Regions from separate parts of the Homo sapiens genome. Here all the other regions are reported to be linked to region 4. Evidence: microRNA targets listed by miRTarBase, many of them from high-throughput screens and not tested one by one. Region 4 holds a microRNA gene; each other region holds the end of a gene's coding sequence.

Region 1 (3,000 bases), not on the chromosome of region 4:
CCATATTTATCCCCATCATTATTTTGGAAGCTTAATACCCTGTTCAGGGGTTGAAGAGTTTGAATAGCTCACACAATCCTGTAAAAATGACAACTGGCTGCCCTTTAATAAATAAAGTCATTGTAAAGAATTACATTTACAGAGTGAAAAGTGAATACATAGCATTTCAAATTCAATTTTGGAAGTACTAATAAGTACTGACCCATAACAATATACACTAGCTATCTTTTTAACTGTCCATCATTAGCACCAATGAAGATTCAATAAAATTACCTTTATTCACACATCTCAAAACAATTCTGCAAATTCTTAGTGAAGTTTAACTATAGTCACAGACCTTAAATATTCACATTGTTTTCTATGTCTACTGAAAATAAGTTCACTACTTTTCTGGATATTCTTTACAAAATCTTATTAAAATTCCTGGTATTATCACCCCCAATTATACAGTAGCACAACCACCTTATGTAGTTTTTACATGATAGCTCTGTAGAGGTTTCACATCTAAATTACCAAGAAAGCCCTTCCCTCCCTCATCTTGCACTCAGCTTAATTCTATACTAGTCCTTGGATTATGTACCACTGTAAAAGTATAACTGTATCAAAATTACCATGTTTATGGATACAATATTATGCCATACAGAGCAACAAAGTTACATATAATGACAAAGATTACTGAAGTTATGCAAGACCAGAACAAATGTTAGGACATGCTACCTAGGCACAGTCCCTACAAAGAGGCTCCTAAGTACCCCAAGTTCAAATAACATTGACAAAATAATGAACAATTATCTTTAAAAATTATAAAGCTACTGGCAAATTAGGTAATTGCTAAATAAAGGTAGAGCATGAGATTAAACTCTAATATTTACAACTGCAACATACTTAATTACAATTGTGCACGTATCAGTGGCTTTGTAACAAAAATACAGAGAAAAAATTAAGTTTTCAGTTCAACAAGAGGTCGAATCCAATCAATCTCAAATATACTCAACAACTCAAAAGATTTACCACAGAATAAATTCAAGATTAGCTGATAAACAAGAGCCATATTACTGGTGTTTAAGACAAAATCTAAACAAGTTAAAATCTAATGCTTGATCAGAAGTCAGATGACTGTGCAAACTTTACCTCAACAGAAATATACTGAGATGTGCAAACAAATGTAAAACCTCCACTACTGGTTTGCCTGGGAGGCTGACCTTTTCTTTCTTACAGAGCTTCCTGATAACCATAAACTATAAATACAGGTACAATGCACAGTCAGTAATCTTTTCTTTTTTATTTATTGTTAGAATATAAAAGAATTGAGAGCATAGGTTTAATTTCATTTTTATAAGGAAGACTACATTTACCTGAAAAAGAAATATGGCATCACACACAAACACGCTTCAGGGAAGGAGTATATTTAAGAATATGGTGTCATTCTGAATGCTAAAGGAAAAGTGATCCCTGTTTACTATTAAAATATGTAGTGTAAAATTCTTTAAAGGAAACAACTCACTAAATCTCTACTAGGTAAGTTATTGTGAATTTAGTTTTCAAATCACAGTAATCCACATAACCATTATTAACAGCTCTGTTTCATAGAACTGCAACAAGCCAACAAACATTTAAATGCACTTCACATCAAGAGTATGTAAACTTTATTTTTTCCTCTTCAAGCCTTCAGAAAGTTAGGGGCTATTTCAGCAGCCAATCTGGTCAGAACCTCTGAAGGCAAAATTTCAGTGCCTCACAGTGTATATGACCATCTGTTGCACTGCACACATCTGGTAGTGAAGTGTCCCCTATCAGTGGCTTCCAGTAAGGCCTAGAGTTTAAGGTTAACATAAAAAAGTGCCACCTTTGTTTTAGATTAGTGATGGACTCTGACAAGATAAAATAAAGTTATTCTGTATATTGTTATACTTACAAGCAGCTCCAATCCTGAGTATTTACGGTAATATCTAAACATACAAAAATGTATGTACATTTTTCTCCACTTTCTTGTAAACAGTTGTCAGTATACTGTTTTATCCCTTTATCATTGAAACATGCAAATCATACATACAAGTATAAATACACAAAAGAAAACAATTTACACTCATTCAAAAGCCAAGCAACAAAAAATAGCTACAGTATTCAAATCATAAATAATGAATGCTTGAGGCATCTTATATTCCTAGAAGCAGCCAGCCATTCATCCTAATGTTCTTAGCTGCAATTGTAGAAATACTGAGTTTTGCACCTTCCATGCTTTTACAGTATTTATAACACTATCATATGTGGAGATAAAGACTTGTTTACTATAATCTCTTCTTTTCAGAATGAAGAATAAAGCAGCACTTACAAATATTGAAGCAGTGGCAGCAACAGCAGGGGTTACCACTGCTAGATCAGAAGGAATTTTTCCATTCTAACAATTTTTAAATTAAAAAAGTAAAGGAAAAATTGACCTAAACAAATTATTACATGTTCATTCCTTGGGCACTTAACAGTGAGTCCAGCATGTCGAATGTGTCTTTGTAGTCCATATGCTGGCTGCTTGTACTGTACTCGTGATTGGCATCAGGACCGTTGGTCTCCACTGGCTTCTTGTCCAGTTTCACGAGGGTGCTGAGATGTCCGTAGCCCACCTGGTATGTGACAGGGGGAGGAGGGGGTAAGGGATGGTTAAAAACAGAGTTGTGAGAGGATATATACTGCTTAACAGAGGAGGAAGAACTAGATGAACTACCTGAACTTTTGGAACTTTTGCTCATTTTGGAGTGGTGGTTGTGAGATGCATCATTGACATGCAGCCTCTTCCTTGAAGAGCTGGAGCTAGAGGAAATGCCATCACTGCTCAGGCCAACAGGACTCCTCAGAACAGTGGGTGGTATTCCGTCGGCACTGTGTTTACTGCCACCGCTGCTGCTGCCACTATGCGAGTGGGAATGCTTGTGGCTGCTGGTGTGGTGGCGGCTTGAAGGATGCTCCTTGTGCTTCTCCTTATGGTCTCTGCTAATATGTGGGCTT
Region 2 (3,000 bases), not on the chromosome of region 4:
ATTTTAGCAGTTTTAAGAATAACCGTTTAATTTTTTCTCTCAGAATTTTGTACACTGGTTCATCTTAAAACATTTTTCCAAAGAGGTACTCAAATATGTCATTTACCTATAAGCCATCATGCCATCACTTAGTTAAGACTGTTTTTACTGTTTCAAGAATTTGATTTATCCTTCCTTTTGTCTTACTGTAGGAAAAGAATGCCTCAGCCAGATGAGGAATACTGTCTTGTGTAAATATATTCAAGGAAAACACCTCCACTACCTCACTGACTTCATAATTGGAATGTCACATGGTTTTTTTAATCAAGATGCAGTGAACTGAGATTCTGAAACTCCACTGTAGTTTACTTTGCCTGTACCATTAATGCCAATGTTTTTATAAATCACTTGTACATAGTACATATGGGAATAGTTGCATATGGGAATTTAAACCAACATGTGGCTGAGCCTTTTTTTTTTTAATCTTCGTAACATGTTTAAAAAAAAACAGTGATTTTAACTGCATATTTGAACCTACAAACTGGTAAATCTTATTAACAAAAAGAATGTACTTAAGGCCCTCTTTATTTATAGTGTCGAGTTATTTTTGAATTTTGCTTAAAATCTATTTTTCATATGAAAATAAAAGATAACAATCAACTTGGGTCTGTCCTCTGACTTTACACTTCACAGGTCATTCTATGGAAAAGCCGTCAAATTTTTACCTTATTCCAAGTAAGTAATCTTTCAGGTGGTTTTCTTTTACCTGGAGGCTGAAGTACATTATACTTATCAATGAAGATTTCATCATTTGGAAATACATCAATTATAAAACTATTATGCTTCAGATGCCTTTCCTTAGCCAACATATTCTTTGGTGGAAAATCAGGAAAACTTTGTACCTTGGAGAATGTGACCCAGTGATAAATTCAAATTGTGTTGCCTTTCAGATTTTGAACTACCATAATTAACAGCTCAACTCCATGATGTATACATTTCTTTAAAAACTAGAATAGCAACTGCTCTCACAGTCTGGCATAATTATTCCCAAGGGGGAAATATGTAATAAGAAGTTTTAAAATATTCTCGGGAACTCTTTTCTAGATCACTACTAGACAGCTTTTGAGTCACAACAGGTATGTTACCCTGTTACTAATAATACAGAGCAGCACAGTGCAGTCATCCCTCACCACCAAGGTTTTTATTCCAAAACAGTTATTTGGCTAGACGTGAACCGTTAAGATACGGGATCAATGGAGTTACAATAAAGACAATGAAAGTGACAATTTATTAATACACAGTAAGTTCTAGAAGGCATCTTTCAAAACAAAACTTGATTTCTTTTGTATTTACATTTTTTGTTTCAAGTCTTAGCAAAATGCTAAAAGGCCTGGCCTAGTCACAATTACTGACATCCTTCTGGGACACAATTTTCTGGGCCTGTGTTGAATGAGGATAAATTATCTTTTCTCTAAAATGCCACATGAACCCTCTCTATATTCCCACATGAAGAGGAATGGAAGGTAATTATTTGGTCTTTTCTTCTGTTTAGGGGAATGAACTGAACCACTCATTTTTTTAAAATCACACTTAAAAGACACATGGGCAAAAAAGTTCCCCAAAACTACTGTCTTACCGAATTTGAGAAGGGAGGTAATGTATGAAGCTTAACAGCTGGCTTCAAAAGACACCTTTCCAAAGAAATTGTACTACCTCTATTAACGTGTAAACCACCAACCAAAAAAAAATAATAAGTTACTCCATCAAACACGTTATTATCCATAAAAAAGACTTCAACATTGTACTGGAAGATCTATTTAAGCATAAATAGTACTAAGCACCAATTACTAATCTGAAGGCCTCCTCACAGGTCCAAGGGCAATGAGCAACCTCAAGAGGCAGGTGACTGCACAAGCAGTAAGCTATGGATTAAAAATTAAAAGGATTTCACATTCTTTCCAAAGTGTACTGCCCGGTGTCTGGCACACGCATGTTACAATATGACAATCTGCTCTATTTGTGAGCACCTGAGTGTATTACAGGGGATTACACATGCATATGATAGAATCTGGCTCCCGGTACAGTCAAAGGAGAACAGCATCAGCCACCAAATGTGCTGATCTTACACTGAAAAGGGTTGACTGAAAACATTTCAAGGGTAATGTAAACACAAGAATAAAGCTGTGGGTCTATTACTTAGTGATGTGGTTTTATATGCTACATACGTAGACCTCTCTTTATACAATGAATATGGACAGTGCTGCAATAAAAACTGATGACACGTCAAATTGTTCACCTGAAGAAAAACCCTATTATAGTTCAGAAAATAATGCAACCAATTTTAATTTAATCTAGATACAGGTACTTTATTTACAAATATTTAGATTAATAGCATTTTGTTACATCAAATGAAGAGTACAGCAGTCTGAATAAATCCTTCAGTCACAAAAACAATAAAACCCACTGTAACTAACTTTGGGAGTCAGGGTATTGCACCTCAACAAGCCGCAGTCTTTAGTTTGTGATTGCTACCTTATATCCCAATGGGTGGTTTGTTTGTTTTGTTTTTGTAAATATACACACACACCAGCAGGTCATGGTCCCTGGGTGAGTCCCTTGTGATGCAACAGTGTAAGCAAAATGGATCACTGTAAGTCTTTAACAGAATATACCAATCTACTCCAGAAATCTTATTTTTTAAAAAGTTAAACAAAGACAAAAATAAAAATGAATCCACAAATTAACCAAAGCCTACTTTCTGCACATTCCAGTTTTGGCTTTTATTTAACATTGACTATACAATACTCTGGTACTACCACATGTTTACAACCCAGAAAGATGTACTTTTATGTTAGTGTCTGTAAAGAGGGATTTAAAATGTGTATTTTAAACACAGCAGTTGAGCTGAGTGCATTTTCTATAGTACGCTGAGGTGTTACCTATTCTATTTCAAATAAATTCTCAATTCCCAGCCACTGAATCATAAATGCAATAAAAAAAATCAACAGAAATGAAGAACTT
Region 3 (4,288 bases), not on the chromosome of region 4:
TACCACAATTAGACAAGTCCAGAATTTGCTACAGTTGACAGACTGTCTGGTCTAATCTCATCCTAAAAAGTCAGTGTTGTGTAAAAACAAGAAGTTGGAAGGACCAGTCTAGATTAAAAGAGACATAGCCAAATGCAGTGCCGGAAAACTGTTGGATGGCTCATGTAGGTATTCCAGTGAAGGCTAGGATGCTAATAATGAAAAACCATTTGAAGAGTTTGAGTAAAATTGTTTCATCAAATGTGAGCAGAAGGCAGCAGTATAGATAGAATATATATTTCCTGAAATGTGATTTTAAATTAAATATATGAAACAAATTTATAGAATTTGATTATTTCATCAATATACCTGAAGGTTGGTATTTTTAAGTTGGCCAAAACTTTGCTTTTAATCTCATTGGGCAAAATGAGGAATTGCCTTATGATAACTGTCATCCTAAACCAGAGATTTTGTTTCAGATGAACTTTTATTATCTCAATAATAGTGTGTTTTCCTATCTGTTAGATAAAAATGGGTCTGTAACTAATTGGGGAGTATTTTTTAAAGTGTGGATGAGGAAACCCATGTTTTAAATGGGCACTAGCCTCATCCACTAATGTTGGCAGGAATGTTCATCAGCAGTGACAAAGCATTTTGAGATTTTTGTCTTTCATCATTGTAGACTATACTGTAAAAATCATAGTGGAAATGATGAGAGAGATGAAGAAGATGAGGAACGAGAGAGTAAAAGCCGAGGAAAAGTAGAAATTGATCAGCAACAACTAACTCAGCAGCAACTTAATGGAAACTAGGTATGAAAGTTAATTATATGGGATCTGTTGTCAGGATACAATACACACTGATATATACATGTTGAAGTAATGGTATGCAGTAAGATTTTTTTTAATCCTATTATGTTTAGTTAAGAGCATGTTACTAAAATGCTGAGGATTTTGTAGGCTTGCATAGTAGTTGTTTTTTAACTAGCTGATTTTGTAACCATAAAAACAAGCTATCTGCTTTATCAATAAGTGTAGTTGTAATGTCAAATCAATAAGATATTCACACTCCTCAATAACATTATATTGATTGTGTTCCCCTCAAGCATCATATTTTACATTTTTTTATCATCTTTTAAACAGGTTCATGGGACAGAGTTAGAAAACTGGGAATGAATAAGACATCCATAACTACTATTCTTTTTTCACTGTTTTCTAAAATCAAAAAGGGTTTGTAACTTTTTACTGCCCAACTCTTAGATCCTTCATTGAACTGCCTAAAAATGTCTTGTTTGTTTTATGAGCCCTCACTAGAAGGCTGAGTTTGACATGTTGATATTACGTAGCTATAGTTTGCAGTTTCTGGGAAGCAATTGAAACACTATTAACCCTGTGTATAGTGTCAACAGTTAAAGCAGACGAAACGAAGTAAGCTATATTTCTGGACTGAACAAAGCTCTGCTGTTTAGAGCATTTAAGTTTGTTTAGTGGATCCATACTCAAAGGAAAGCATAAGCAAATTTTCCTTTACAATGCAAACATGCCACTGGTGGCAGCACATGGTAATTTGTGGATTTTTTTTTCATACTCAAGTAATGGAGGCTAGAAATGAAGAGAACCTTCTTTTTCTCTTGACTTTGACAGCACATGCTAAAAATCTCTTCCAAGAAGTATGCTAAAGCTTTTCATTTGGTTCCTGTTAAAGTTGTTCTCACTGACCAGCATGGACTCAGGCAACTGGTAATGATAAGCTATGAGCTCCAGTGCTTTTGCCAAAATTCTCTTGACAGCACACCTCCTCTCTTTCCATGTTATACAAAGGACTTCTGGCAAAATGATTGAGTCCTTCAAGTTTAAACTAACATTTGGCAACAGCAAATTAAACGTTTTTAAGATGTAAAGAAAGGGTTACCGCTTGCTAAGGACTTCAGACACCATGTCCGAAACCTGTTCCTCTCAAGTGCCCTGTTGTGTGGAACACTTCACATATTGGCGCACAGTACGTAAGGAGGTCTCATGTGCTGTAGGAGTAAAAAAGTCTTTGCATAAAACAGTATTTATTTTTACTTTTGTGACCACTATTTTAGAAACTTTATTTAATATTTTAATGTTTTCAGTCATTGCTTTGGTTATCTATAAAATAGGCTTTTGTGCCCTACTTTTCTTCTTGTAGGGCTTGGTGGTGTTTTATCGATTGTCAGAATTGTTTTTGAAAGCCTAAGAACCCAGCTTTTTAGAAAGGATTTTCACACTGGCATTTCTAGGTAGTGATATTTTCTTCCACTTACCTGCTGAAGCACATTTATGCATTTCTTTATGGCAAAACCAAATAACTTTAGTTGTGGTCTGCCTGATACTACCATAGCACCTCAGTACCAAGGGGAGGGATTTTGACTAGTTGAATTATTAAGCCACCACAATAAAGCAGATTTTTAAATAAGAAATAATAATGTTAACTTGACTGTACATTGAGATATTCTGCAGCTGATAGAGCAGCATTTTAAAAATGTAACAGGTGGAAAATTACACTGTGCTTAATGACTGATTTTTTTTTAAACTGCGAGTCCCTTAAGATCACGTTTGTCAAGTGTGTATTCACACATTTACTTAAATCAAGGGACTCAATGCTTGCTTTTATTTTAACCATCTTTTACTATTTTTAGAAGGAAACTAGCTTTAGTAGTGGGTTGCCCTGTATGTTTTCTCTTTTTGCTCTTAATATGCCATTGGGTTTTTGTGTGTATGTGATTTTCAAAATTCATGACTTGAAGTGCAAGGACAGATCTAGATGTTTGTTTACCAAGCTATGTGACTTCTCCCAAAGGATCTGTACTTTCTTTCCTTACAACAGCTTGAAAATCATTATTTTAAAATCCTTAAATCACTGTGTCTAGATCATTTTTTACATTGTGTGCCATAGACTTACCCATGGGACAACAGAGCTCCTTCATTTTTGGACAACTACTGTAATCATTTTTTTTTTAGGAAAAATGGAAGGTGCCGGGGGTAATCATGGCCAGTCAATAATTATATAAAGGAGTTCAAATACTATAGCTGTCAGTTGATGAATTTGTTATGTAGTAAAATGTATGACTTTGTATGGGTTTCTTCAGCCCTTTTTCTGCCACTAGCAACCAGAATAGCACTTTACCTTTTGGTTGGCTAGATAAGTGGCTGACTACCTGTTTTTCTCACTGTGGTGTGATTGGCTAAACAATCTCGCATTAAAAATTCAAATGTAAATTGAATTCACATGAAAAATCATGTTTGGTTGTAAACCTCCAATGTTTTGATTCTCTAATCATGTTTTCGTCACATGCTGAGTAAAAGTGCCTTACAATGTAAAAATTGTACAGTACTTATGTTCCCAAGTAGCATCATCATCTTCTGGGTAGTAATTACATTGTGGTATTAATATTTAGAAAAATGGACCTCAGCAGTGTATTTACTGTACATCTCTTAAGTCCTTAACTGTAGTTTTAATAAGCATGACATTATTTGATAAGTATATAACATTTACATCATTTCAAAAAATACTGCCGTTACTGTCTTTTATGCATATTTTAGCCTGAAATTTTGAAGCGTCTTTTTTCTTTCTTTTTTCTTTTTTTGTTTTGTTTTTTGTTATTGATATTAAACAGTGTAATCTTTGCAAGCGTATATTGAAGATTATTCTGGAGCATTTATTGCCTTACCAGAAATGTTAGTAGGAAATGTTCTTTAGAGTAGAAAGATAGACTTGAGTTTCTATACTTTTAAGAAGAGCTCTTTGTTCCTGGGGGAGGGGGGCAGGGGGTGAATTTTACTTTCATCTCAAGTTATTAAAAACCCACAACTGAAGTAAATTTTATTTCAAGAATCAGCAGTTTTAGAATTTCAGATAGTACTTGCTCAGAAGTACATGCTACTCAAGATATTAAGAGATAACAAGATCTGTAGATCTGCTATTGAATCAGAATCTGTGTACTTGAACAAATGTGTGAATCTCAAATATCTCAAAGCAAAAGAAAAAGTGTTCTAGAGTGTTGTTGCTTTTTTAAAAAAAGCGCTGAAGTTAGACCAAGGTATACAGTTTTGTTCTAACAGACATTTAGGTTAATTGTAAAGATAAGGAATGCATTATGGGTCAAAAATCAAACATTCCTCTCATGTTATGTATATTTTGTTCCTGTTATATTGGCTTTATTTTCAAAATTGTAGTTTGTAGTATTAGTTTCCTTTTATTGGTATTCTTGCATATACTATTCATTCAATAAATGACTTATGACTTTCATATTTGTTTGTCTTTTTTGTGAAAGTGTATACTGAAG
Region 4 (4,127 bases):
GAGACCTGCCCAGAGCATAGCCCAGAGGCCGGCCTGGATTCTCACAGCTCCGCCCACTGGGCTGTCCTGCCCCACCCCCTTTTTAGCCTGCTGGGACCATGAGTCAGAACCCAGTAGGTGTGAGGGGACCCAGCCAGCCCAGGTGGCCAGTCCAGCCTGAGGGGGTGGGGGTCTCAGAGATTAAGTCAGGAGCCCAGAGTGCGTGCTTAGGGTGCAACCCACCCCACAGCCTCCCCCAAGGCACCTCCCGGGGGTGCAGATGGGGGCAGACGCAGGGACACTCAGGGTGGACCACCTGACTGGGAGCTGATCATGAGGTGTGCGACAGCCTGAGTCAGCCTCAGCTCAGAGGAGCTGGGATGGCCTTGATCTTCCCCCTCCGGCCACTCACCACAGCTGGGAGGGTCCAAGGAGACCCTCAGCCACTGTCCCTTCAGCCCTCACCCCACCCTGGCTGGCTCTGCCCGGACAGTCCTTAGGGACATCTTGGTCCTGCCCACCAGCCAGGGGACCCAGAATTGGAGCAGGGGAGCAGGACCCCCAGACCCTCTCATACCGCTTTTGTTCTGAGGCCTTGAGGGAACACGGGGTCTTCGCGACCCCAGGCGAGATGATGCTGGGACAGAGGAGGGTCGGGCTGCATCGGGGCCCTCCTGGTCCCCACTCCTGGGTGAGTCAGCATCTCAGTCTCCAGTTCTGGGTGGGCGGCACCAGGTGTGAGCCTCAGCGGTCTCCTTGCTGGCTAAGGACCTGGGATTTGCTCCAGTGCCCCTCGGGAGGGAGTAGGACACGTGCCCAGAGAGCAAGCAGACCCCCTCCCCGACCAACTTCTGAGAGCAAAGACACCTAGAGCTAGAGATTCAGCACCCCCTGAGCCTCAGTTTCTCCACTATGAAGTGGGATCCGTGATCTCAGCCTTACCAGGGCTGTGAGGATTAAATGGTCCAGCCCAGCCTGGGGCCTGCCTGGAGTAGGCAGCCTGCTCAGGATGGGCTGTGGAAGGAGGGCTGGGGTAGACCTTTCAAGTCCACTTGGGCATGGGGAGCTGAGAGCTAGCATGCCGTTTAACTTGGCAGGAAGCAGGCCGGGCGCAGTGGCTCATGCCTGTAATCCCAGCACTTTGGGAGGCTGAGGCGGGCGGATCACGAGGTCAGGAGATCAACACCATCCTGGCTAACACGGTGAAACCCCCTGTCTACTAAAAATACAAAAAATCAGCCGGGCGTAGTGGCGGGCGCCTGTAGTCCCAGCTACTCGGGAGGCTGAGGCAGGAGAATGGCGTGAACCCAGGAGGCGGAGCTTGCAGTGAGCCGAGATCGCGCCACTGCACTCCAGCCTGGGGGACAGAGTGAGACTCCATCTCAAAAAAAAAAAAAAAAAAAAAAAAAAAAGCTTGGCAGGGAGCAGGACATTTGGACCTCACTCTGCTGCCCCCTTGGCTGTGTGACATCCAGGTCACGTTGCCTCTCTGGGCCTCGGTCTCCTCACCTGTTTAAGAGGGGTTGACAGTCGTATCTGCCCCCTCAGCTTTTCCCCAGGAAGGTGGTAGCCACAATTAGCATTTGTTGAGGCTGACCCTGCACCAGGCCCAGGATAGGCGGGGCTTAGGGAGGCCCGTCTCTCGCCACGTTCCCCTGCTAGGGGAGCCCCGAGGCCCTCTCAGTGTCATCCTCATGCTACACTCTGTCCCAGCCCTGTGCGTCCCAAGCTAGGGCACTGAGTGTGCCAGCACCCGCAGGGACAGGCACTGGACCCTGGGTGGACCTGAGGGTCTGTGACTACCCCCCCAGCTGCTCTCCCCTAGAGGCCACTTCCCTCAAGGAAGGAAAGAACCTTCCCGCCACCTCCTGCAGTGCGGTCAGCTCAGGCCAGCCTGCACAGCAGGGCCAGAACCAGGGCCCCTGGGGAGGGATGCCTGCCTGCCCAGTGGGAGGAGACGGCACGCCCGTGAAGCCGCTACTCAGCCAGCCTGGGGGCCACGAGTGCTGCTTCTGGTGGCGCTGTGCGGGGAGGGAGGGGGCCGAGCAGGGTGGGCACTCGCATGCCTGTGTCTTGCTGGCCTTCGACAGATGACAGCCCTCCTCCTAGGGTCTCCAGTGCAGAGTTCCTTGGGGACATTATGGCCACTCCTGTCCAGATGAGAGGGAGCCGGCTGCCTGTGACAGCGTCGCAAAATGCCGCCAGGGCTTTCCCTCCCTCCTCCTTTCTCTCTTCCTCGTCCCTCTCTGGTTGGTGGTTTCCTGCAGGCTCCCGTCCCTGCTGGTGCTGGCCACAATGTCCCCACTCCCAGGGTTTCGGCGTCCCAGCCCCCTGCGCCCACCGCGCCTGCCCGCCAGAATCCCTGTGCCCTTGGTGCGTGTGGCCTGCCGAGCCTCGAGCCCCTGTTCTCCTCAGCCCTCTTTCCTCCCGCGTCCCCAGGAGGTGCCTCTGGAAGCCACGGAGTCCCATCGGCACCAAGACCGACTGCCCTTTGGGGTGAGGTAGTAGGTTGTATAGTTTGGGGCTCTGCCCTGCTATGGGATAACTATACAATCTACTGTCTTTCCTGAAGTGGCTGTAATATCTGCGGTGGACAGAGCGTCTGGAACCCTGGCTGGGAGCGGGCAGGGCCAGGTTTGGGGGCAGCCTTGGCAGCAGTCGGGGGCAGGGGCCGCCTACACTGAGAAGTCTGACAGGCCTAGGTGCCACTTGCTGTGTGACCTTGGACAGGCCCCTGATCTCTCTGGGTCTCAGTTTCCTCCTCTGTAAAATGGAGGCAAATGAGGATGGAAGGAGATGCAGTGTGGAGCATCGAGGGCAGAGGAGAGCTGAGCCGACCCCACCCTCTGCCCCAGCCGCACTGAGAGAGGCGATCCACGCAGCTGTTTGTCTGACCTCTGTCTCCCAACACTCCCCAACACTCCCCCCGCCATCAGGCCCAGGCTCATGGGTGGCCCTGAGCCGTACCCTCCACTGAGCACCAGGAGAAGGCACCGTGGGGCCAGGGGTGGCCGAGACGTTTGGAGGTCACAGGGCTGCGAGTATTGGCGTTGCCCATCACCCCAGGTTCCCAGCACGTGCCCCAGCCTGGCCAGCTCAGTGGCAGGGCCTCTGCCTGTGGAGGAAGGGAGGCCAAGGCACCTTTCCTGAGCAGGAAGTGAGAGGAACAGCTCTGCATACACTGGGTCCCACATGGCACAATCTGAAGGCAGACAGTGGCTCCTCTGTACCTGGGGAAACTGAGGCCCAGAGAGCCAGGGACTTCCCAAGACCAGCCAGCAGCAGCTGCCCCTTCCTGGGGTGCCATCTCCCCTGTCCCTCCTGCCCTGCGCCTGCCCAGCCCTCCTGCTCTGGTGACTGAGGACCGCCAGGCAGGGGCTGGTGCTGGGCGGGGGGCGGCGGGCCCTCCCGCAGTGCAAGGCCGGGCCTGGCGGGGTGAGGTAGTAGGTTGTGTGGTTTCAGGGCAGTGATGTTGCCCCTCGGAAGATAACTATACAACCTACTGCCTTCCCTGAGGAGCCCAGTGACACGACCCCATGGGAGGGCCGCCCCCTACCTCAGTGACACGACCCCACGGGAGGGCTGCCCCCCACCTCAGTGACCTGCAGGGGGCCTGAGCCGAAGCTGGGTGGGCATCTGGGAGCTAGATTCAATAAAGCTGTTCTGACCATGAACTTGGAACTGGCCCCTTTCATTCTGGAAGCCCAGGGACTGGGCTCTGGGGCGCGTCTGCTGCGGGACAGTGTGGAGGCCCCTGGCCACGAGCTGTTCCAGGTCATGAGACTTGTCTGCTCACGCCTCCCGGTGCCTCCAGAGTCCTCAGTTGGCTCCGTGCTGTACCCTGGGCTCAGGATCCCAGGCCCAGCCCGTTCTCTGCCCTCTCGTGCTGCCTTTGAGCCAGGCGGGCTGAACACCGGGACCCAGGCCCGGTGGAGAGGTCCCCACGGGGCAGCCACCAAGGCCCCAGGTCAGCAGCTCAGAGCACTGCCAAGTCCTGGCTCCTGAGGCCACCTCCGTGCCTTAAGTGCCTTGACCAAAGTCTGGACGTGCCTGTCCTTCCGTCCTCCCTCAGGACAGTTTCCAGGGCACCCGTAATTCCTCTGACAGACTGCCATCCCAAAAGTGCACCCATTCTCCTGGGAGGCCTC
Region 5 (4,288 bases), not on the chromosome of region 4:
AGTTTCTACCATTCCCCCTGCAGCAGTGAATCTTTGCCTGCGTTCCTGCAAATGAGGTCATATGCCTCCCCTTGAGGCAGACTGATTTCACCTCTGTTCCTTCCCCAGAGGCCATAGGTCTTTGCTAGAGCCCCAGGGGGAGTTTCCTGTGTTTCCCTCAGCAACTGAAAAGCTTATGCTTCATGGGAGAGAAGCATTCAGGAGAGCAGGCAGGACTTGACTTCTTCCTGTCCCCCGTAGCCACTGAAGTGGCCCCTCTCCATTCACCTGTCCTGCTCCCAGTCTTTCTTGTGAGCACCTGACGGAGGCTCGTGGAAAAGAGCTGGCAAGTGTGTGCAGACTCTCCTTGTGTCAGGGGCCTGCAATACTAGCCTGTATTTAAGAAATTAGGAAAATCTTAGCTGATTCTTCTTACCTGTTTGTATGGCAGCCACCTCGTTCTCCAACACTCTGCCAAAAGTGAGAGAAGTGTGGCCCATCTTTGGAGGGGCATATTTTTCTTTGGAATTTTACTTTCTTAGTTCCTTTAAAACCTCAGGTCTCTGAAGGATCAAACAGAGTTAAGATTTTGTTAGACTGTCTGGCTTTTTCTTGTTAGGATGGGAGCAGCTTTTTGTTTGCCGTTTTTTCCCAGCCCTCTACATGCTAAACAGAAGCATAAAACTCCTAAATTTTAATTCAGAAAAAGGGGTTCAGAGCTCATTTACTATCTGTGATCTTTGCTAACTCACTAATTCATAAAGTGGAAATACTAATAATAACAATTATGAATTCATCAACAGAATAGAGGATTATTTCGAGGTTTTAATGAAATAATATGTGTGAAAACACTTGTAAACTAGAAACTGCTGTACAATAATCATTACTTTCCAAGATGTCATTTCCTTTTTCTGTCTTCAGAAACGATCTTCAAGACACAGAAATAAGTCCAAGACAGAATCGCCGCACAAGAGCCGCTGAAAGTGCTGAGATTGAACCAAGAAACAAGCGTAATAGGAATTAATGTGGGCTTTTGCTGACTTTTCAAATGCATTGATTAGAATACCGTACTTTTGGTTGCCACAGATAGATTTTCTATTTATAAATGCCCAAGGAAAGATGCTAAATTCTAAATATTACGGTTAGCTGATATTCATTCTTTTCTGCTTTTCCAGAGGGGAAAAATGTTACAAAATATCCTTACTTGGTCAGTTGCCTCCTGCCTCTAAAACATCTCTCTCTAAAAATACTGACATTTCACACAGGTACCAGCTTTGCAGAGGAGGTAGACTCTTTGGCACTTTGGCACAGGGATTTGGTTTGGTTTGGTTTGGTTTGATAATTAAATTTCAGAATGTCCTTAGGCCATTCTCCTTCTCTTCCATGGAGAATCCAGCCTCACAAAAGGATTCTTTCAACTTCTTTATTGCAAGAAACAGTTGAGTTAAATGTTTGTTTTTGGAAAGGCGGGATGTCAGTTCACATCCTTGGTGTGTGTAAGTACCGATGCACGCCACCACCATGCCTGTGTTACAGCAGCTCCATGATGGTTGTTGCCCGAGGTTAATGTAGTTGTTTGTTAGACCTGTGTCTTACACATTTCTCAGAGTAGGATATTAGTATTATAATTTAAAGCTACGACAGTCACAAAGTCACAATAACTTAGAAACATTGCGCATATTCTTCTGAAATAGCACTTAAAAATGATTAGTGTCAGTATTTTTTCACTTGGGTCAATCAAATCTGTAACACTGAATCCAAGCTATTAAACAAAAAGTATGCAATGAATGAATTTTGTAAATGAATAGAGAGTATCAGTTTACAATAATGTTCTTAAAACAGTATCCTCTGGATAGTTGAGTATGGGTTAGAAATCATTGAAATGGATTGGTCAGAAATTGCTATCTGTGTAAAATGTCTACCAGTAGCCAGATGCTTCCAGAGTTCTTAATGCCTCTCTGGCATTTCAGAGCCAGCATCCCCCAACTCCCACCCCTCTGCCATCACCCAACCCAAACACATCAGCTTTCAAATGAGATGATAGTAAATGCGGCAATGTTAAGACAAGAAATTTATGATTTGCCAGATTCAACATTTATGACCTCCCCTTCCAAAGACTGTCTCCGTTGACCTTGTCTTTTTGGTATGCCTTGGGGTTTCTGATAATGTGTGGAGTCTCATTATGGCTGAGAGTTTAGTGTTTTCACAGTGAAGTGCAGACATTTGATTTCTTTATGAGTTCCCTGTGTTAGAAATGGCTATAGAAAAATTTGTCATAATAATTTCATTTGCATGAAATCCTGAGGGGTGCATTAAGGAAACTAAAAGCACCACTTACCAAATCTATCGGCAGAACTGATGTGAGGTAAGTGAGCATGTCAAACAAAATAGGAGCTCACATGGATATATTTATGTCACTGAGTTGTCAGAAATTATGTCAAAATGAAAACTGTTTGTTTCATGACAAATTATATAGTCTATAAATTAAACTGGAAGTAATTATTACTTTAATTGCAGCAAAAGGAGTTTGTGAGGGAGCGGTGAGACCCAAGATTGGGAAAGTAGGCACATGAGTTCATTCAGCAAATATTTGGTTATCTATGTCTGTCACTGTGCTGACACTGGGAATACAAAGGTGGCCAAAGATCATCTAGAACAATGGTTCCCAGTGGGGTGGGCAGAAAGATTTTGCCCCCCAGGAGACAGCTGGCAATGTGTGGAGACACTTTTGGAGGTGGAGGGTGGTGAGGGGTACTACCAGTATCAATGGGTGGAGGCCAGGGATGAGGCTAAACACCCAACCCTCATGGATTAGTTTGCCAGGGCTGCCGTCACAAGATACTGCAGACGGGGAAGCTTACACAACAGAAATGTGTATTCTCAGAATTCTGGAGGCTGGAAGTCCAAGATCAGTAGGGTTTCTTCTTCGGCCTCTCTCCTTGGCTTCCACTCATGGTGTCCTTGCATGGTCTTTTCTCTGTGTGCACATGACTGTGCAGGACTGGTGTCCCGATTTCTTGTAGGGACAGCAGTCATTGGATCAGGGCCCATGCGTATGGCCTCATTTTACTTCAGTTACCTCTTTTTTAGATAGAGGGCCCTATCTCTAAATACTGTCACATTCTGAGATACCGGCAGTTAAGACTTCCAACATATTTAGTGGTAGGGGTTAAGGGGCACGCTTTAGACTACAACACTCCACAGTAAAGAATTATCCAGTCTAACATGTCAGTTGTGCCAAGACTGAGAAACCTGTAATGTAAAGGAACTCCCAAGTCTACCTGAAAAGTAAGGTCTAAAGAGCATTTATTGAGCACTATCTGTTAGCACTTAGCATATGTTTAATATTCATACATTGAAAGAAATGTATGTTCATATCCATCTGACAAAGATTAAGGAACTTAGAGTAAGTAATAGATCCAAAATTGAAACTGATAAACTTCTGGTTCTAAAATTCACCTTTTAGTGAAAATACAGTTTCTCACCAAACTTACAGTAATTCAGAGTTATTAACTCTTTCTACCTCCTCACTCCCCTCAAAGTTATAACATCTCCCATCAACATCAGCTCAGAATGGCAGTGATGCTTATGGTTTGTGGGGGTGCAGGTGAGCTGCTGGATGCACTTTAGATGGCCTAGTATGCCAGGCCGTCCTTTCATCCTCTACTCTCGTCTTTCTTTTTCGACCTCATGTTGAGGATTACTGGTCTAGTTGAAAAAAGAATTCATACACATAAGACCATGTATATAATAGAGGGAGGTATGCCTTTAAAAACAAAATTACATGGTAAAGACTGATGTGTCAACAGGGATAGACAACATAGAGAAGGCTAGAACTGTTTCTGGAAAAAAACCCAAAAACAATGGATTTCAAACTTCTTAGCATCCGATAAAAGAAAGTAGCAATTATTCAAATGAGAAACACTTCTGTCTGTTATGTACATATTATGAAAGTATGAACATAAGAGGGAAAACCACAACCATTACATTTTTTACCATTTCAGTAATTTTTTTTTGGTTTTTAGTCTGTTTTTAGACATCCTTAAGAACAACTATCTGAGGCTGTAAACAAGTATTTACATTAACACCCATGATACTGACTTTATACTCCCTACCTGCATTGAGACCTTAAAGGGGGCATTTCTCCATTCCTTCTGTGTATTTCTGGGTATCCCCAGGTTCAGATATTCAGAATACAGATACAAGTCCATGCTTGCATATGTTGCTGCTCCCCCCGACAGACTTCTACCAGCATCTGCCCTCCTCACCGCTGCTCTGTCACGTGCACTGCGGCTGGCCCTGCTGGAAA
Region 6 (4,042 bases), not on the chromosome of region 4:
TCACACACACACACACCACAAAAAATAAATAAATAAATAAATAAATAATAAAGTTGAGAGGTCATAACAAATACAAAAACTCACTACAAAATTGTTTTCTTAGGCCTTTTCTCTCAGTTGTCTAATTGTATTTTCAGATGGAAGCAATACAAATTAAAATGCAGCTGAGCCATTTCAAGTAAAATGGATATAAAATTGTAGCACCAAAAAAGCTGAAGCCAAAAATATATTCATTTGCCATACAGGAATAGAAGTACTTTGTGATGTTATATGGGAAGCTATGCCGATATCCAGCATATAGATATTAAATCTGGAGTAGTCTCTAGTGTCACTACATTATTTTCTACGGCAATATGGCCTACTTCCATTACTCATGGGCTGAATATTTTATTTTATTTTATTTTATTTTTTTGAGACAGAGTCGTGCTCTGTTGCCCAGGCTGGAGTGCAGTGGTGCGATCTTGGCTCACTGCAACCTATACCTCCTGAATTCAAGTGATTCTCATGGCTCAGCCTCCAGAGGATCTGGGACTACAGGCATGTGCTGCCACGCCCGGCTAATTTTTGTATTTTTAGTAGATGGGGTTTCCCCATGTTGGCCAGGCTGGTCTCAAACTCCTGGCCTCAAGTGATCCACCCACCTTGGCCTCCCAAAGTGCTGGGATTACAGGTGTGAGCCACTGTGCCCAGTCTGAATATTTTATCTTATACTGTTTACCTCTTAAATCTATCCCTGCTCACTAGAATTGCCTGTCAACATTACATTGGGATAGAGAAAACTGGTGACACGTCAGCTAGTTTTGCTATTTATAGCTGCTTTGATTAAGTAGGTTTAAAGCTAACAATTAGTTTTGGACTACCCATGGAGCTGATTTTCTGCATAATTTCCCCAATATAAAGTTAATTAATATTAGATCAAAGATGACACAGGTTAAACAAGATTTTAAAAGAAAAATAAAATTTCAACTTTTTTCCCTCAAACGCCTGCAATATAACACACATCTTTGTCTAACGTATTAGTTGTCACAGGAGACATTTGGCTGACAATTTGTTAATATAAAAATTTTCCTGAGAAGTCTAGTTTACATGAACTGCCAATTCCTCTACCCCCAAACCCCTTTAAACATACAGATGAAGGATAATTTGTGTCAAAAAAATACTTCGAAGTCCATCTTTCGATTGGAGGTTCTTACACTTGTAATTCTGTTTTAGGGCAATGAAGTTCCCAAAAGTGGTCTCCAGATGCCCAACATGTCCAGTCCTCATATTCACTGGCATTGAGTATTTCCTTTCTACTAAGTTTAAAAGACCACTCAAGGCAGACCTTTCTACAACTGCATCATGGGGAGATCAGCAAATACTACTTTGTTCTTTTCAGGCTGAGAAAAACACCTGAGTTTTTGTAATTTTTTGAAAACTGTAAATATAAAAGTTCTCTTCAAGAGAAGCACCACCATCCTCATGACCTGCATTACACATCAAGGGACAGAACAAATATTAACTAAATGTTTACTTCAGGTTAAATGGTCCAATAAATCACATTTGTCTTTAACAATGCGGTAAATTTTGAAAAATCCAAAGGAAATAAAAGGGAAAACTATCATAAACTATGAAAAAAGAAGTCTAGGGAAATTGATAAAAACAGTCCAAGAAATGCAGCTGAGTATCACAATGTCACAAGGAGACTCTAGAGAAGAAGTTTTCCCTGATTTCCATTAATGCTTAAATGATCTGCTGATGTATAAATTATCTCCTGTCCCACAAACTGAAAACAAGTCACAAAATCCACATTAGAATATAAGTTTTTTAATTTTTATAAATAACTTATCTGTTACAAAGATAGTTTACCCAGCTAAATCACAAAACCATCAACTCAAGATATCCAAATTACGTTTTATTAATAAAACAAGTAAAAACTGATTTATCAATCTTCACATAGAACTGCAGATGAAGCTGAAAAACAAGGCCTATTTTAAAAATAAATTGCATCAAACGTAAGGGCTTTGGGTCTATGGTTTAATTACCTAGGATTGTCATATTTCTTCCCATATACAAAATGCAAAGCCTGAAAGTTAGGGCTCTGACATTCATAGAGATCAACTGTAATAATCCCATTTAAAACACAGCCACTTGCAAACATTTACAGTGGGTGGTAGTCTATATTATCTTCCATCCTTTGCTCTATTTCAGCACTTCCCTTAGCCCCATTCTAAGCACTCATATAATTTCATAATTCTGTCTTTTTAAATGCATACTGTTCTTTTTCTTGATTTCAGTTATATACATTCCTGATCATCTGAATATTTTCCTTACAAAAATATATCATCAAAATAAAGAGATGCTTGAGGTTGCTTCAGTGTTCAAGTTTGCTTGTTTTTTTTTCCAGCTTTTCTTCAGTTGTCCTAAATATGGCTAGCCTTGTTTTATAAATACACATGATACTGTCACCAAGTCAGGATTAGAAATGGACTGCCCCAACAGTAAAGCATTTAAACTTCTCTCCAAAAAAAGGGCTGTAGGTACTGCTGCTGTTGCTGGTTTTGAGACTGTACTTTCCCAATAACAACTGCTTGTGCAAGTTCTGTGGGACACCAAGCAGATGAAGCTTAACCTTGTTGTTCTGTCAGTGGGTTAAAAATATCTTTTGTTTTAAGCTTCCCTGTGGAAGACAAACACTGTGTTGTGTCACCCACTGCTCAAGTCAGTATTTAATGTGACCTACAGACATCACTTCTGTAATATCATCTGCAATTCACTGTGCAGCATCTGCCTGTCTTCACACAACATTGGAACTCATGAGGGCAAAGTACAGAATAAGTAGAGGAAAGTTATTCTGTGCATACTTTCATCTCATTAATGCTTTTTTATTTTAAGGCATTGTTCCTCTCAGGTAAGGCTTAAAAAGGGACATGATCGTGCTTAATTACTAAAAGGAAAAAAGAAAATTAGTTAACAAAAGGCTATTACACTATACATATAGAAATATAAGAAAATAATCAAGAAGAAAAGAAATCACTTAAAGCAGACTCGAGAGATCTGTACAGTAGGAAAAGCTTTGGGGTATTTCGCTGCACATTTGTACAGACAATGCATGCTGCTTTCCTTTGCATCTTTAGCCCCTAGATGCTGGCTTCACAGAGTGGAGACACGTTCAGGGAAGACAAAGACAAGGCCAAGAGTACCACAGATTTCTGAAGTTCTTCCCTATCCAATGGCACTATGCGGCAGCAAATGGTTCTTAAATAGTTAAACCTTGTTCCTTTTCTTCGTGTATGTAGTGTTTCACTGAAAGCTTTACAAATAAAACAAGCTATCATTCTATTCCTTCCTCCTGTCAAAATTCAGTAGTGACATGAGGGGAAAAAGGTATTGGGAACACCTAGGTGTTAACATATTGAGAATTATCCATAATGGGACACTGGTAACACTGTACACAGTTAGGCAGTGGGCAACCAAGTCTTTCAGCAGATTACTTTTCATGTGATGAATTTCAACTGCTCATGACATTATACTGAGGTATTATTAGCTCTGTGGGCTGACATTTAACATTAGCAGAACACCATCTTGTCACACCTTCAATTTGACAAAATCCTATGTAGCAGTGAAACTTTTTCCCGATGACAGACTAGTTTCTTGAACTTTAGATGTGGTTTTAGAGAAGATACAGGGCCATTTGGCTCAGAAATGCCTTGGCATCTCACACTGTTCACAGCGAATTAAGGCTGGATGGTTCAAAAAAGTACAGGCGGTACAATTCCACTGAGCTCCCTCATCATCTTCTGTGTCTTGAGTCTTTGGTGTTTTGATGATGGACCTTTGATCTGTAAGAAAGAAAAAAATTATTTTATAAGTAAAAAATCACAAAGTCTAAAAAATTACAGGCAACTTTAAACACCATTTGTAGTGCACAGCCTGATGCAGCTTGCTCCCCAAATGGGGCATCTAGCTGACACTGACACACATGCTCGATCACTACCAACCTCTATCTAGTTGGCACTTCTCCCTCTGGGAAATACAACATGAACATGATGTAATCACCTCC

The links. Region 4 holds the annotated microRNA hsa-let-7a-5p (UGAGGUAGUAGGUUGUAUAGUU, at 2,477-2,498, shown strand). A microRNA usually pairs through its seed, bases 2 to 8, with sites in the 3' UTR of a target mRNA and lowers its output. Matches are read on the target gene's strand: a 7mer-m8 pairs with bases 2 to 8, a 7mer-A1 pairs with bases 2 to 7 and ends in A, and an 8mer does both.
Region 1: miRTarBase lists CCNT2 as a target of hsa-let-7a-5p. The part of its 3' UTR that is shown has no 7-base or 8-base seed match.
Region 2: miRTarBase lists CNTRL as a target of hsa-let-7a-5p. Seed matches in the 3' UTR shown: 8mer at 259-266.
Region 3: miRTarBase lists PHF6 as a target of hsa-let-7a-5p. The part of its 3' UTR that is shown has no 7-base or 8-base seed match.
Region 5: the mRNA of RAD18 is a reported target of hsa-let-7a-5p. Seed matches in the 3' UTR shown: 7mer-m8 at 3,499-3,505.
Region 6: the mRNA of TAB2 is a reported target of hsa-let-7a-5p. Seed matches in the 3' UTR shown: 7mer-A1 at 3,513-3,519.

The regions. Positions count from the first base shown.
Region 1 is chr2:134,954,099-134,957,098 of GRCh38, reverse strand. It overlaps CCNT2 (cyclin T2), which reads right to left. Exons shown (of 9, transcript NM_058241.3): 9 at 1-3,000. The coding sequence ends at 2,451. Among named protein-coding and RNA genes, the nearest start is that of CCNT2, 37 kb to the right of the region's middle.
Region 2 is chr9:121,176,972-121,179,971 of GRCh38, forward strand. It overlaps CNTRL (centriolin), which reads left to right. Exons shown (of 44, transcript NM_007018.6): 44 at 192-639. The coding sequence ends at 215. RAB14 (RAB14, member RAS oncogene family) reads right to left here. Exons shown (of 8, transcript NM_016322.4): 8 at 1,162-3,000. Among named protein-coding and RNA genes, the nearest start is that of RAB14, 23 kb to the right of the region's middle.
Region 3 is chrX:134,424,540-134,428,827 of GRCh38, forward strand. PHF6 (PHD finger protein 6) reads left to right here. Exons shown (of 11, transcript NM_001015877.2): 10 at 662-791; 11 at 1,122-4,251. The coding sequence ends at 791. Among named protein-coding and RNA genes, the nearest start is that of HPRT1, 33 kb to the right of the region's middle.
Region 4 is chr22:46,110,276-46,114,402 of GRCh38, forward strand. It overlaps MIRLET7A3 (microRNA let-7a-3), which reads left to right and starts at 2,474; the gene lies at 2,474-2,547. It overlaps LOC124905135 (collagen alpha-1(III) chain-like), which reads left to right. Exons shown (of 2, transcript XM_047441696.1): 2 at 1-3,653. MIRLET7BHG (MIRLET7B host gene) reads left to right here. Exons shown (of 5, transcript NR_110479.1): 5 at 1-3,653. MIR4763 (microRNA 4763) reads left to right here and starts at 3,291; the gene lies at 3,291-3,382. It also overlaps MIRLET7B. RefSeq lists an enhancer at 502-1,035.
Region 5 is chr3:8,878,072-8,882,359 of GRCh38, reverse strand. It overlaps RAD18 (RAD18 E3 ubiquitin protein ligase), which reads left to right. Exons shown (of 13, transcript NM_020165.4): 13 at 901-4,288. The coding sequence ends at 1,003. Among named protein-coding and RNA genes, the nearest start is that of RAD18, 83 kb to the left of the region's middle.
Region 6 is chr6:149,409,356-149,413,397 of GRCh38, reverse strand. TAB2 (TGF-beta activated kinase 1 (MAP3K7) binding protein 2) reads right to left here. Exons shown (of 7, transcript NM_001292034.3): 7 at 1,791-3,821. The coding sequence ends at 3,679. Among named protein-coding and RNA genes, the nearest start is that of SUMO4, 11 kb to the right of the region's middle.